2 separate regions of the Homo sapiens genome follow, and region 2 is linked to region 1. A link means that fine-mapping ties the variant in region 1 to the expression of a gene that starts in the linked region. Tissue or cell type: whole blood. Region 1 holds a variant in brackets; the other region holds the start of a gene. All regions are shown on one strand. Distances are between the middles of the regions.

Region 1 (8,105 bases):
GCTCCTGTCCAATGGCCACCACTTTCTCGGAATTCAAGAGGCTGCATTCTCCTGCTTGAGAAAAGGTGACATAATGCCACTGGGGTCCTGAGGAGAGTGCTGATGCTCTATCCCCACTGTTTGCATGTGTCCCAGCCCAGCAGACTCAAAAACTCTCTCTGGGATGCTGGAGTTGGGGTTAGAGGGCATTTCTCCTCCATGGTGACAGGAGAAATGTTGTCAATATTTCCTGTAGGCAACACCAGGGCGGGGCAGCAGCTTGTTTCTGGCTTCAGGCTTCTTGGACTTTACTCGACCTGTTTCAGGAAGGTAGAAAAGCGTGTGCCTCCCTGTCTGAAGCAGTCGAAATGTTCCTGATTAGAACACAGAGTCTTTGCACACAGAATAATATTCAAGGCCAGGCACAGTGGCTCATGCTTGTAATGTCAGCTACTCAGGAGGCTGAGACAGGAGGATTTCTAGAGGCCAGGAGTTCAAAGTTATAGTGAGTTATGCTTGCCCCTGTCTGTAAAAATGAGGAAGAAGGAGGAGAAGAAGGAGGAGAAGAAGAAGAAGAAGAAGAAGAAGAGGAAGAGGAAGAGGAAGAGGAAGAGGAAGAAGAAGAAGAAGAGGAGCAGGAGGAGGAGGAGGAGGGGAGGAGGAGGAGGAGGATTCAAAATTCACCTGAGAACTTGTTGCTGTCTGTTGGCTTCTTGCCAGGGAAGGCCCTGCTGTGATCCAGGGCAAAGTGGACTGGCAGGGGCTATGAAGCAGGGATGGCAGCCAGAGTGATAACAGAGTGCTCCCAGCAGGTGGCGAGGGGCTGCAGAATGATGAGAGACTAGAAAGAACCTGGTGGCCCAGAATGCGGATCTGGGGGCCAGGGCCTCGGTGTGTGGTTCTGCAGGTTGTGCCCTGCGCAAGCTCACCCAAGTGAGTGGGGACAATCCAATAGTCAAGACCTTTATCCTGGGGCCACTTTTTCCTAATTCTCTCAAAGGCATTGCAGCTCTCCAAGCTGTACATCTAGCAGGAGGAGGCACCTTATGAATTCCCAGTGCCCGGAGTGGGTGAGACTCCCCCCAATTCCCTTCTTTATTCTCTCTGGTGTCCATTTTGCTTCCCCAAACCCCCTCATACCTGTTCCTACTCATGAGATTTTCATGTTTTAGGGGCATGTCTTGCCTAAGCCTCCTGACTCTTTATTCTTCCTGGAGCCTCACTCCTCTATAACTCCATCACCCTTTTACTGCCAGTGTCTCAATCCAGGCCCCCGGTTCTTACCTCAGGCAATGATAGAAATTATCTAGAAAACATTGTGAGTGCCTGCTTTGGCACACCTGAAATCTGGTCACTTAAGCAATCAAGATGAGGAAGAGCTGGGAACGCTCAAGGCTCCTCCCATCCACCTCGTGTCACTCACTGTTCCCTTTCACTTACACATGTTTACTGAGCATCTAGTATGTATCAAACACTGTTCAAGGCTTTGGTGACACAACAATTCACAAAACAAGCATAAATAAATCCTCTAGCTATAACTAGCTTCTAGTTGTAGTTATAGTTCTGGTTTTGGTAGGTTATGTTCCCTTCGATTTCACCATTCTTCTCTCTTGGTCTGATGCCCTGAAAACCCTCCTCCTCTCTCTCCCTCCAGAAGGCCTCGTGGTACTTAGACACCCTGCAGGGATGAACTGTTTCTCACATGGGGAACATATGTGTAAATTTTGCTCTCCAAGTGCCTTTGCATCCGGGTCTGGCAAGAGTTCCAAATCATTGTTCTCCACCTTGGATCCACTTTCGTGTACTATTTATTGTTTTTTTGACTGACAGCCAGCAAAGGCGGGTAGGGGCAAGGGTGGCAATGAGCCCAGGCTCTGAAACATAGCATTTATTAGGAGCTGTGGGGTCATTTTTCCTGTTATTTTTCTTGATTGTGGCTGTGTTGTCCTTCAGTAAGTGTCTGTAGGCTTCTATTTGCTAGATGAGGTAGTGGCCGGCTCTGTCTCTTTCATTCCTCCCCTTTTTTCCTTTTTTCTTTTTTGCTTAAAAAACACTAAGGAAAAATGTCAGAAGATAATGTAGCAAATGCCTATGATAAACATGCATATGAACCACCCAAAATGAACAAATGTTAACATTTGCGTCATGTTTGCCAGCAACTTTTTCTAGCAAAAGAAAACATTACAGTCCAGGCCTGGTGGCTCATGCCTATAATCCCAGCACTTTGGGAGCCTGAGGTGAGTGGATCACTTGAGGTGAGGAGTTTGAAACCAGCCTGGCCAATATAGCGAAACCCTGTCTCTACTAAAATACAAAAGTTAGGTGTGGTGTCACACGCCTGTAATCCCAGCTACTCAGGAGGCTGAGGCAGGAGAATTGCTTGAACCCGGGAGGCAGAGATTGCAGTGAGCTGAGGTTGCGTCACTGTACTCCAGCCTGGGTGACAGAGCAAGACTCCATCTATCAAAAAAAAAAAAACAAAACAAAAACCAAACCAAACCAAAACCACGTTACAGATGCCACCGACGTCCCTGCATTCTCCTCCTCAGTCCTATTTTTTATTGTCTGGGCTGTGATGCAAATCCAGGCTATGTTTATGCATCCATAAATGGTATGTACTATTTGGTTTTGCACTTTTAAAATTTGTCATAAGTGCTATTATACTACATGAAGTAACTCTAAAATGTGCTTTCTTCACTCAGTGTTATGTTTTTTGGTATCTGTCCCTTTTACACCCATAGATGTAGTTTGTTCATGTTAACTGCTATATAGTATTCCATCAGATGAATAATAAAATTGATTTCTTAATCCACTACTGATAGACACTTAGATTATTTCTATTTTTTACCATTACCAACTATGTTACAATGAACATTCTTGTAGATATTTCCCCATGCATGTACAGAAATTTTCAGTTGTATGTACCTAGAAAGAAGTCAAATTGCTGAGTTGAGGGGTATCTGTAGATATTGCAAAATCGCTCTTTCAGATGGCTATACCGATGCACAGTTCTGCCAGAAATATCTGAGAGAATCTGTTTCTCTACAGCCCCATCAACATTTCACCCTAGGCCCTCCCACTCTGTTCTCACAGTGACCGAGTTTCCTAGACACTGTCATACCAGGTGATCATCTCCTATCCAGCCCTCCTTCCTCTTGCTTCTCCTACCTCACTGCCAGATCAACCCTATTTAAGGTTTCCTTCTCCACAACATGTTCCCGATCTACTCCTCTGGCTGGAATTTAAGGCCCTCCACAGATGGATCCAGGCAACCTTTCCAACATCATCTCCTGCTGCCTGCCCTCAGCACACACTCAGGAAGTCTTTGGTTCCTCCAGATTCTTCCACTTGCGGGTCTCTCTCCAACATGTCCCCACCTGTTGCCTGCACACCTCTGGTC[C/A]TGCCACCATTCTCTACACCTAGTCTCAGTGTTCACTTCCACCTAGGAAAACCTCATTCATTTCTCACAACTTGCCTCAATGACAGCTTTCTTGGAAGCCTCTCCAGATAACTCCAGGCAGAGTCCCCCTCTCAGCTCCCACTGTACTTTATATAGCATTTATTTCTCTATTATAGTATTTATCCCAGCAGCTTATACAAATCAGACATAAAGCCTCTTGACTCTTTTGCTTGGAAAGTAAGTGTAACCAAAATGGATCTCGTTTTCCTTTGTTGCTTAGAATTCCTTCAACAAACTAAACAAATGTGTATTACATACCTACTCTGCACTAGGTGCTGAGTGGTGGCTGAGCCAGATGAGGCTCCTGGCTTTGTGGCACTTCCAATGTGATGGGGTGAAGGGTGACATGCGTGGTTATCATCCTCTGAGAAAGTTGCCCTCCTCAGTCCTCCGAGGCACACCTGTCTGACTGGATGCTCAATTCCTAGTTTCTGTCCCCAGTGCCTGGCACCAACTAGGGGCCTCAGGGCGAGCTTGCTTGCATGGCAGGTCGGGCATTAAAAGTCTTGGACAGTTGAAGGAGGAGAACCATATTTCAGATAAGTCACAGAGGTGCCAAGAGGCCAGGAGCCTGTGACCTTCAGGCCAACCGCCCTGGGAGTTGCCTGGGAGGCCACATGATTTCTGGAACAAGGCAAAGGGTCTCAACTGAAAGAGATGGGCTTGGGGATGAGGGAGGAGATGGAGTAAGGACCTGGCTACATTGCAGTCCTCCCCATTCCTTCCTCTTCCAGTCCAGCTTCCCCCATGTCCCTCTCATTCCTCCAGGAGCACACGACACTCTCGCCTGGTCTATCCAACTTAGGCTGACCACCCTGGTGGTTTTTAAATGAGTCATCTTCCTGTGTTTGGGAAGGGAAGACCCCCTCCAGGTTGCAAATGAAAAGGGTAGGTGGGGGCCTCTCCTGAGCCATCCCTCTCTCCACCCCTTTCTTCACCCTCTGCTCCCCCCAGCCCCTCTGTAGACATTCTCTGGCCAAGCTGCTAACAGAAAAGGAGGATTTTCTGTGTTACTAATATGTTAACGGTGCAGCTGTGACTCAGCCCTCATGCCCTCTGTAGAAGGAGGCTTGATTTCCATTTGCAAAAGGCAATAGGGATCTGATGAGAGTCTTTCCTGTGTGGAAACATTTCCTGCTCTTGCCCAGTCGGATTGGCACCTTATTTAAACAGCCATAACAATACATCCTAAATTGGGTAAGGGAAATGGAAAACAATGTTGAGAAGAACATAATGACCAGAATTGAATGTGAGCCTTGCCTCGTTAGGATTTGAGTGCAGCAAACCAGGAATTAGGAGCCTTCTCTCTGGTCTAATCAGCTGCTTCACCCCGCGCACCCCAGGCTTCTCAGCCATTTCTTCTGAGAAGTTAGGGGGCCCATCCTCTCACTGGATTCTTGCGACAGTCGCCTGACCAGTTTGCCTGTCTCCATTCTCTCCACCTCCAATCTTCTCCATTCTGGGGACAGGACGCTCCATAACTCCTTATGACCTCTGGCACAGTTTCCTAGAACTGTGTAAACTCCACCACACTAATTGAAATGCCTTCAAGAGGTACAGATGAACTTTTCTTTTTACTTGAATGCTTGCATATTTATTTTTCTATATATGAGAGAAAAGTATAACCAGCATACCTGTGAAATCCATGATTTCACAGAGATATTATTGCTGAGAATGAGGCTGAAGTTCAGAATCGTAGACTGGCAGAACAGAAAAGGGCCCGAGGGATCATCTCGCCATGCACATGTCTTTGCCTTCAGTTCCAATTTTTGTATGCTGTCTGACTACATCTCTGCGTGCTGACCTCCTACCCAACCTTCAAAGCCCATCTCAAAAGCTGCTTCTTTCATAAGTTACATGTTGTCTCTCCCAATAGACTGGGAACTGTTTGTAATACGCTCCTCATTTTGGGGTCCACTCCTCCACCCCCATCTCATTCCCAGCACATAATTGGCCTCAAGCAATGTTTGTGGAAGAAATTAATACTCCTACCATCTACAGCAACACAGAATAAGTCTGCTTCTCCTTCCCAGAACCTGAGCTTGGGATAGACACTCACAGCGAGCTCCTTGGTGGGGTCTCAAAGAGAGTGGGTGAGTTCCTTGAAGGCTGCTTGGAACCAAGGACTCCACCTAAGGACTTGGCCATCATGAAGAGAACCTCACAACTCTTCAACAAGGCCTCACTGAACACCTGCTTACTCTGGGCCAGCTCTGCTGTAGGTGCCAGGGATACTCCATAGCCCTCTCTTCCAAGGAGATGCTGCAACGCTTTCTCTGCCATACTCCTCTGTCTACACTGTGTGGGTGGGAAGTAGAGCCTTCCTGCTTGCATATGTCAATGACAGGTTCCAGTACTATTTTGACAGGTTGTTCCAAAATGATTGCTTTTTGATTGGTGCAGTAAGCTTTAGGAAACCCCCCAATCTCCACTCCCATCTCTCCAGTGCAATAAGCAGAACATTTTCAAACTCTTCCCTGGGCCACTTTAGCTGTTGTCTGAGCTGATCCGCATTCTGTCGTTCTTAATAGCTTCCCTTTCAGAGAATGACATGCTCTTCTGGACTCTTTCTCTCTCTTCTGAAATAGAGTTGGTTTTTTCTTGATTAGAAAAGTAAAATATGTGTGTCTGTTTACTTATTGGTAAAGAGTTTGTTACTTAAAGCTCTTTATATAGTAAAGATATTAACCCTTTTCTGTCCTATGCTGCAAATATCTTTTTCTTTCCCAATTTGCTATTTTCTCTTTGATTTTTGGTTTGTTGTGCTTTGGGATGTGCTAACATTTTTTTAAATGATGCTGCCAAATATGTTGACATTTTCCTTTGTGATTTTAATGCTTAGAAAGTCTTGCCTCCTCCCAGACCAAATAAATACTCATCTATATTCTCCCCAAGTGGCGAGGATGACATTCATCGACCTCACCCCATTTGAGTTCTTTTGGGATCCCCTTTTCTAGCCTCCATGATGCCCCTCCCCCTGCAGTTAGCACAATTTTTCTTCAGTTGAGGCACAAAGCAGTCATTAGGCTGGAGCTTTAAATATGCTAATGAGATCACCCTTTCCCCCGTCACTCTTTCAGCCCCTTTGTAAAAGGACAGCTTGGGGTGGATCCCTTTGCCTGTTGTCCCGTCTCCCGCTTCCTAACCCCCTTCTTTAGCAAGCGGGGAGAGAAAGAGAAAAAGGAAAGTGCTAACTAACTTCAAGTATTGGAGGCTACCTAGATGTCACTCCATTTCCAGTGTACACTTTTCACCTCTCCTCAGCAACTACATTTTCAGTTAGGTCCGAATCCAGAGCTCCCAGTTAATGGAAAGTCCCTGCGCATCTAAACACTCAGACTTGAGCAAAGTCACGCAGCCAACAGCCCGAGTTCCCCAGCAACCGCCAGGCCGGGCTTGCTGCATCTTCTCCATCACTGGCACGGTTGCCATGGGAACGCGAGCGCTAAATTACTTTGCGTGTTTGGAAGCTGAAGACCTCAGCTTTGACGCATGTAGCCCAGAAATCGATTGACCTCCAATTAGGTTTTTGTTGTTTTCTTGAGGCATCTTTCTGTTTGTGTCTTGCCTATGCCTCTTGAGGACTGTGTTGGAGGGAGATCTGAGCATTTAGCTTAATTTTTGTAAAAAATTATTTCCACCTTGACTTATTCCAAAAAGGGTTTAAGGTGGCTTATAAGATACATCCTATACTTGGAGAGAACCTAAATTAGATGTAAGGGAGGAAGATGAGGCAGAGAGAAAACAAGGGTAACTTGTGAAGAAGTCGTGATAGAAAGTGAATTTCAGGAAGTCCCCTCTTGATAAATGTGGGTCCCAAATTTGACTTTAACCTTTCATGGCAGATAACAAAAAGGGAGGTATGATCAGTTATAAGATTCATAGATAAAAGCAAATCAACTGCTTAACAGAAACGCAAATGTTCCGAACCTTGAGACTAAAAATCTACTTCTTTACTGGAGATTCTAAAAAAGATGTCACCTTTTTAGTCCTATCACCTAGCATATTACTTGAACAGATGAAAGCATATTCTAACCTTGGTAGGTGGTTTCTTTTATCAAAACTTTCCACTTTTGTTATTGTTGTTGTTAAATAAGTAAATTGCTTTTTTTGTAATGGCAAAATAGAAAAAAATCGTGTAAATAACCATGGAATACTATGCAGCCTTTAAAATTTTTTACGGAATTATTACCACCTAGATTTGGCCACCATTAACCCTTTTTTTAAAAGCGGACATTTTCCCATGTAAATCAGTACCTCCTTTCTGCAGGACAGTTGGGCAATATGTTTCAAAAGGCCTAAAAATGTATACATCCTTTGATGTGGCAATTCTACTCTTAGAAATGCATACTAAGGGAATAATCAAACGAGTGCTAGAGATGCATGTACAAAGATGTGCATCAAAACATTGGTTATGATGTAAAGAGAAAGGGAGAAAATTCTGTGTTCCCTACAGTAGGTGACTGGTTATGTAAACTATGGAGCATCCATATAGTGGGGCATTATGCAGCTGTTGAAAACAAAGATGGAAGTGTCTATTTACCAACAGGCCTCCTAGACTATATCAAGCCTCACCAATATACTCTCTCAGCACCCTGTACCCTTTATTCATTGCAGTTGTTATTGCTTCATAATATATGTATTTGTGTGCTTATTTAACGTCTGC
Region 2 (8,105 bases), 140 kb before region 1:
GGTTGTCAGGTCAAGAGTAGGATAGTCAGGGAGTGGCTTAATATGATTTTTCTTGTGTAAAGTAAGCATGTTAAGATAAAATTACCTATTAAATGCAACAACATTCGAATGTTCCTAATTATAGTCTCATCCTAACAAGACAGAGCGGGTAAAACATGACGGTTGGGTGGCGGGTGAGGGATTGGTGGTGAAGGAGGATCTACATAGGACATGAAGATGAGGGACTGAAAAAGAATTTGTTCACATTCTGCTGAAATCTCCCATAGTTTCCTTCATAACGCCACAAGTCTTTTTTCGAAGTCTCAGCCTGTGCTCAGAGTCAGGGTCAAAGTTCAAACAACGTCAAAGTTTATTTTTGAAATAAAGGTTTATTTCCTCACGGAATTCTTGAAGGGTTTGCCCCATGTGTGTGAAGCATTGAGACTGGACTGAAAGGAATTTATTTTAGGACCCTGAGCCGTCTTTGGCTCACACGCTTACTGCCCTAGGAGATGATTGATGGCCATGTAAGTTTCCAGTCCACCCTTGGAGGCCCAGCTCTGGGGTTACATCCCTCCCACTCAGCGAAGCCTCTGTTGCCTCTAGGGCAGAAGCATGCTCTTTCCTCTCAAATCTTGTAGCACTGATCCACTCAATGTACCCACTCTTTTTTTTTAACTTTGCATGCTTCATTAATAATTTATCTAATTCTATATGTTTTGATAAATTGTTAATAATCATTATAAAGATAAACTCAATCCACAAATCCCTCTCTTTTCAGAGTGTAGCATTGATTAGCCTTGATACTGTCTGCATTGTTAATTGAATTATAGGCTCTATCTGACTGAAAAGCTGGCAGTTCGATTTCTTTGGGCTACTGGGCTGCCTATCTGAGGAGAGAGAGTTTAATTGTATTCTTAACTGCAGAGCCATGCATTTATACCAAAAAGGGTAAATGACATTTAAAAAGAGAGTCGATTCAATCTAGTATTTGCCAATTCTTGTTAATTTCTCTTGGTACAGACACTTAGAACCAGAGAACAGAATGTTAGAGTTAGGATTAATGAGCAGCCTTTTCATACCCCCACTGCCTGTATATATATTTTTATTGAGTCTCATGGCAAGAGGGTGTGGGGTGAAATATATATTCTTAAAACTTAGATAAAACACAGTGCGACCCTGTAGTTCCAGCTACTTGGGAGGATTGCTTGAGCTGGGTAGTTCGAGTTCAGTCCAGGCAACATAGCAAGACGTTGTCCCTAAAACCAGAAAAAAAAAAAAAAAACTTAGATAAAACAATTGACTGTAGAGGAATATCAAAGAGAAAGCCAACATCTCTTCTTAGCCACCAAGTTGCTACTATCTGGCATATTTGAGAGGTAGCAACATGGAGGCAGTTTTCTTGTTTCTCATCCTGAAATAAGACTGAGGGCTGTACTGGGAAGCTGGGTAGGTTACATGAGGTTTGCTCATAAATTTTCATTTTGCAGCTGTGGAAACTGCCAGCTCAAGGAAGGAGAAATGGCATATCCTGTGTCACTTATTTATTCTTTCAAGTTCATTTTTATTGAAATTCTAGGTTCTTAGCAGCAGCTAGGAAGGCAGATTGGGAGATGGGAAGGAAAGCAGAGGCCTTACTGGTCTTGAGTGGTCAATGCTCCCATTTCCTCCTGCCTCTCTGGCTACTCCTTCTGTCTCTGTTTCTAGGTCGGATCCATACCTGATTCCACAGGGGCTTAGGCTTAGGCTCAGAGTGCAACTCCAAAATCTGGTGTCAGGATGAACTGCTGCAGGCCTGGAGCATGGGAGTTGGTGGGTGCGTGGGAAGCATCCAGCACTTTCAGGTCTGGCTTGGCTGTGAAGGGCCTCCCCTTCTCTTCTTTGCACCTTCATTTTCTCTCTCTCCTTCTGAATGTGAAATGCCAAGGTTTATAGGCAAATCAAAGCAAATGTTGAATTCACAGAGCACTTTCTGGCTACTTGGCTCTGGAGATGTGAGCGCAGGTGGGGCGTAGCAGCCTTGGCCTCCACATGAAAAGTTCTTAAGCACTTCCTTCCTTGTGTCAGGCAATGTTCTACTCCAGAATCCACAACGACTCTCTATAGCCCCTTCGGCTGAGTTGAATCCTTTAGTAAGGCTCTTCATATCTTGCTCTGCCTATAATCCTCCATTTATTCATTCATTCATTCAGCAGGCATTTTCAGAGTACCTGTGGTGTACCCGTCACTGGGCTTGGCACTGGGCATACAGCAGTGAACAAGACAGAAGTGATTCCTGCTGCCATGCAGCTAACAATCATGTGGGGGAGACAATATTATTACAAAGGAATATTAGTATTACTATTAAACAAGGATGTTCATATCACCCTCCAGTACACTGTGCCAGATACTGTGCTAGAGGGTGATGTGGGAGCACAGGAGAGGACACTTTACCCTAGCTGCTTTCCTGCCCAGCCAGCTTGGCTGGAGCACGGTATTTCAAGAACTCTAACTTTCCCTCCACATACCAGAGCCTGGCTCCCTACGCTCCTTCCTCTGAGGCTTTCTGCATCTCTGCTCACCTCTTGAACCCAAGGCAGCCCCTTATTCGAGGTCTCACCTTTCCTGTTGGGAAGAGACTGGATAAGAAGCAAGGTGACAACTTATATTCCCTTGGCTTCTTCCATCATACATGCAGACCCACTCTAGTCCTGGCAAGGGAGGAGGGACTCTGCTGTGAAGTGACTCCATTGCAAATACTTGATGTTTCCTTGACGAAAGCCAGGGCCATCTCATTGATGAGGCTGGAGTGAGAGCAGACTAGGCTGGGGGAAAGGGGGTAGGGCCAAAGCTGGTTTGCTTGGAATTGGGCTTGTTATTATAGATCTCTGAAAGATTCATCAGCATCAGGAATCAGAGTAGTGAGGGAGGCTCAGCGACCAGGCCCAGTCCAGGCCTGCTGTGCTCAGGCAGTGAAGCTCTGACCACACAGTCTCCTTCAATCTGCTCGTACCTCATTTCTTCTTCTCCAGAGCAGAGATCAGTCTAAACAGCTCATAGGTCAAGGAAAAGTATCCCTGGAGAGTCCAGCCAAGTCCCTGCTTCCTCCCAGTTGCTCTCTTGGCTCAGGTTTGAGTTTGCCAAATCGAGAATTTGGGGTTTTTATTCTGCAACTGGATTTTACATTTCAGAAAGGGTACAAGTCTTTTGCCCATTTGTTGATTCTTATTTTAATCAGAACCCAACTTTTCTAATATCCATGTTCTAATTTACTAAACAAGAAACAACTATATGCTGAAAAGGGAAATCGGATTACGCTTTTACTTTATTTTTAATTGACAAACAATTATATGTATTTATGGGGCACGATGTGGTTTGATGTATATATATTAATACATTGTGGAATGATTAAATCAAACTAGTTAACATATCCATTACCTCACATATTTACCATTTTTCTGTGGTGTGAACATTTAGAATCTATTAGCAATTTTGAAATATACTAGTTGTAGAACCTTCTTGAACTGCTTCAGGGACAATTAATTATCTGAAGGAATGCATGAAAACAGGCCACGCTTAGAATCATTAATGTAGATGCAGGTATTCTGTTCAAAGTATTTTACTGGCCAGTGTGGTGGCTCATGCCTGTAATCCCAGTGCTTTGGGAGGCTGAGGCAGGAGGATTGCTTGGGGCCAAGGAGTTTAAGGCCAGCCTGGGCAACATAGGGAGATTCCGTCTCTTCAAAAAATAAAAACTAAATTAGCAGGAGTGGTGGCACGTGCCTATAGCCCTAGCTACTCAGGAGGCTGAGACCGGAGGATCCCCTGAGCCCAGAGTGAATTCAAGGCTGCAGTGAGCTGTGACCACACCACTGCACTCCAGCCAGGGTGACAGTGGTAGATCTTGTCTCTTAAAAAAAAAAGTGTTTTGCTAATGGATTATAAAGGATTATAAGGATGTGAACATTTGTAAGAGGAAAAATGAGAAGAGAATGAAGAGAAGGAAGAAACCGAAGTACACCAAAGTCAAAGAAGTGGGTTAGAGGAGAGTCAGATGGGAGCTCAGTGTGTTGAAAATAAGCGTTCTGAGTGGAAAGGTCCTAAGTGCATGAGGACATATGCTCACGTACTCTGGTTTTCTGAGGACAATAATGTGCCCCCTCTTTTCTGCCTTCTGGAATGGAGAGAAATCAGGCCGTGACCACAGGGTTGCCCGCACTGAAAGCACATCTCGGCTCCTGTAACCCTCTTCGGAGAGCATCCCAGCAGCCCAGCCTGGCCAGGGATAGAGCCTATCCCAGCTGGCGGACCCTACCAGAAGGAGGCGTCCCTGGGCTCTCTTTTTGCATAAACTATGGAGTGGCGTCCCTCTATCTGAATTAAGTCTATTGTTCCAGAAAATGGGTTTGTTTCTATTCATCCACTCCAATGGCTTTACAATGTCCAGCCACTGTGGGACTCCCTAGAGACATTGTCTTCTTGAACAGTCGAATAAGATATTTGGTTTTTTGGTCCTTATTTCCAAGCTCCTGGGTGCTAGAAGGTTGTATTCACAGCCTAGTCTAGCCCGTGCGTGGCACCGAGTACGTTTGGGAAAGGAAATCTAGATCAATAAAGTCAAACTATTCGGTCGGTCTTCGCTGATTACCCGCTGGTGTGGGCGCGGGTGTGCTTGAATTTTTTTTTTTTTTTTTGTAATTATGAAGAAAAAGTTTAAGTTAAAAAAAAAAGCAAAAAATAACTTTAACCATCAGAACTGGGAGTGGAGCTCCTCAGGAGGACCGGGGCACACATTCTACACCGTACCTTACGTCCCCCCTCACGCAGACATTCCTTCTTTCACGCTCCAGCTCGCTCTTTTTACTCCTACTTCCCTTTCTCCCTCTCCCGGATCAAGCGTTAATCTGCGAATCTCTGACCGCAAAAGAAGAAAAAAAAAAAAGGTGGGTGGGGGGATCCCGAAGTAGCAGAGCTAGGAGGAGGAGGAGGAGAAAAGAGAGGAGGAGGAGGGGGGAGGAGGAGGAGGAGCCCGGCGAAGCAGAGTCAGAGGGACTGGTGGCTCCGGCGAGTGTGCAGCCCCGGGGGAGCCGGCGCTCTAGGCGAGGAACCCGTCAGCCCGCCTACCCGCCCGTCGTCTTTGGCGCCCGCACGCTCTCCGGCCCGCGCCCAGGGGCCTGCTACACCCGGAGCTGGGGCCGCCGCTCAGGGGCGCTCGGGCCAGGGGCGCTGCTCGGGGTGAGCCCGCCGCGCCGCCAGACTGGTCCCCTGCGCCCGCGCCCGCGGCCGGGATGCCGTTCTACAGGCGCACGGTGGTACCCCAGCGCCTGTGCCCGCGCAACCCGCCGCAGCAGCTGGCGGAGCTCCGCGACGTGAGCCACCTGGCAGCGCTCAGCCTGCTCCGGCAGCTCGCCGACCTCTGTGGCCACTCGTTGGCTCTGCTCGAGGACCTCGAGGGGCACCTGCTGGCCCTGGGGCGCCGCACAGACAGCCTGTACCGGCGCACCGTGCGCCTCCGCCGCCGCCTTCCCTGCCGCCTGCTTGGCCCGGAGGAGGACGAGGAAGAGCTAGGTAAAAACGGCGCCCCGGTGGCTCGCGGCCCCGCGTCTACCCCGCCTCTAGGGGCGCCGGTCGGCGCTTAGCGCTGTGCCCACCCTCTCCCCGCCTCTCTCCGCCCCTCCCCTCCCCTCCATTCGGGGAGTGAGGGGATCCCATTTCCCCGACCCCCGCCTCCGCCCCACGGTCGCCCTACCGCTGGAACTTCCTGCTCTTGGACCCGGTCGCGCCGTCCGGAGTGGCCCCGTGCCCTTGGGACTCCCGACCCTGGGGTTGGTGGCCGCCTCCTGGGGTTTTGGCTGGGGACGCGCTGGGTCCAGGACGGCTTGGGCGATACTCCCCCTACCCGCCCACCTAGCCCCAGGCCCTCGGCGCCGTCCTCATCGCCGCGTCGGGAGCTAAATGGCCGAGCCGCTGGCTTCTTTGCTCCTGTCTAGGAGCTCGGCCACTTCAGAAAGCGCGCCGCAGCCGACCGCAACCTACGCGGCGGCAGGAGCCGGCGGTGGTGCCTACAGGCTTTAAACCTGTGCAACTTCCCGCTGGAGCGTGGACGCGGCTCCCACTCACAGGAGTGTCTGAGCGTCCTCCCGCTTGCTTCTCTCCGCACGTTTTGGGCCGCTGTGCTGGGGAGTGGCCGGGAGGGGGGAGGGGAGAATGTCCGGGGCTTTGCTGACCCCCTACCCACTACCGCTAGGGTCTGGCTGTTATTTGCTGGAGAGAATCATTTAAAGAAACTATCATCAGTTTCCTGAAGCGCATTCACTTTAGGAATCAGCCATGCCTGAGAAACCAGGTTCCAGTGGTGCCCTCACTGAGCACGCGGGACGTGTGAGAGGGTAGGGGGGCTACGCGAGCCCTTGTCCTTTACTGTTTTGGATCCCAGCACTTTACACGGGGAATCCTCTGTCTGTGGAAATGCAGTGCCCCTGAGAGTGTGGGACTTCTGCTGAAAGCAAGGGGACTGAGTAGGCTGGAAATGCTGACTACAGCTGGGGCATGCCAGGTACCAGGGCCAATCGGTTCCTCCAGAAAGCTGGGGAGAGAAGGAGCAGTGTGGCCAGAAAGTTTCCAATGGGGGCAGAAGATGACTGCTGGCTGATTTCTGAGTGCAAGCTTCCAGCTAACTTGGGAAAGAATTGCCTGGGCCAGCCCCTCTTCATTGCAGACCCCACCCCATCCCCACCCCTTCCAGAAGGACTGGAGTCAGGCCCTGGCACCTCTCTTCATAAAGGTCTCTGACCTCTGAGGTAGATGGCAGAGGTCTCTGGTGGAGATAAATGAACTGAGTCCTATTGGAAAAGAAAGGTGGAAGCCACAGATGACTGCCAGATGGAATGTAGACGTTGGACCAGGAGCCTCTGCATGGCAGGGGCTCAGTTTTTTGCTGGGGTCCCACTGATTACAGGATTAGTCTAGGAGAAATTTGATAAGTCAGCTTGAGGAGTAGTTTTCAAAATCCCTACACAGTTTGCAGAGAGCCACCTACTGAGTTCAGTAGGGTAAGTTAAGGACAGTTTTTTCAACTCTACCTTCCTGTCCACTGAATTAGCAAGCCCTTTCTGTGGGAGGGAAGGCAGGGCTTCACCAAGTCACCTTTGGGACCTAACCCTCTCCGGTGATCTGCCAGGTTAGAAGGAGATGGCTTTATGCAATGGATAGCTTGCAATGGAGAGGAACAATTGTTAAGTTAAATTACCACTGGTTTGGCTTCTTGGCAGTTTTCAAGAGCAGGAAGAGTGGCCATCTCTCATCCCTGGTGTGGCCTCTTGCTTTTGAGAATGTACATGTCCCACGGCTCAGAGGCACCCAAGGGACTGCTGCATAAATGGAACACAGCTACCTTCTGTAAGTTGGTGAAAAGGTCTGATTTTCCATTTTCTGGTCTAATGCCCTACCCTAGACTCCCCTTGAAGTTCTCAGTGCACACTTTTCTCTTCAGGAGCTGTAATTGGGTAGCACTGAAATTAGGCCTTCTCAGCAATGGTCTGAACATAAGTGCCAAATGCAAAGAGAGTTGGGGAGCGTAATCAGTGCACCATCTGGCCACTCCCTTGTCGCTCAGGCATAAGCTTCAACAGGGTGTTTAGCAAGCCGAATATTAGATTTTGACCGTAAGTAAGTAAATAAATGAACATTGTCATGTCTTGCCCTTTTTTCTTCCCTATGCGTTTTCCTCCTAGGATTCCCACTCCCTTACTGACCATTTTGCTGGGGGTCAGCATTTTACCCTGCATATCCTCCATCTGTCTGGATTGCCCTCAGATTCTTCCTCTAGCTATTTATTTTGACCATGGGGCAGGAGAAACCTGGGAAGGTGGGAGGAAGGTTGGAAAGCAACATGGCCAGAGTGAATGACAGCTGACAGGCCAGCAGTATATAGCCTCCCTGCAGTGACAACTTGGCTGCCACTGACTGAGTAGTGGCAAGTCAGACTGGCCTATAGCCTGCAGGCTGGGCTGGGGCCCTGAGAAGCAGCAGGGGAGGACAGAGAGAGGAGGAGCGAGATAGAGGAGGAGAAAGTGGATGCTGAAGAAGTTGAAGGTGCTTCTCTACACAATCACAATCATGGGTCATGCCCCCACCATCTTCAAGGT

Evidence for each region. PIP is the estimated chance that this variant, and not a neighbour inherited with it, causes the effect.
Region 2: it holds the start of NHSL2, and the variant in region 1 is fine-mapped to the expression of NHSL2 in whole blood (TOPMed, PIP 0.96).

What each region holds. Positions count from the first base shown.
Region 1 is chrX:72,048,447-72,056,551 of GRCh38, forward strand. The region is part of intron 1 of NHSL2 (NHS like 2); the gene reads left to right. Among named protein-coding and RNA genes, the nearest start is that of RTL5, 79 kb to the right of the region's middle. The variant C/A (reference allele first, on the strand shown) is at 3,380.
Region 2 is chrX:71,905,842-71,913,946 of GRCh38, forward strand. NHSL2 (NHS like 2) reads left to right here and starts at 5,004. Exons shown (of 8, transcript NM_001013627.3): 1 at 5,004-5,526. The coding sequence starts at 5,247.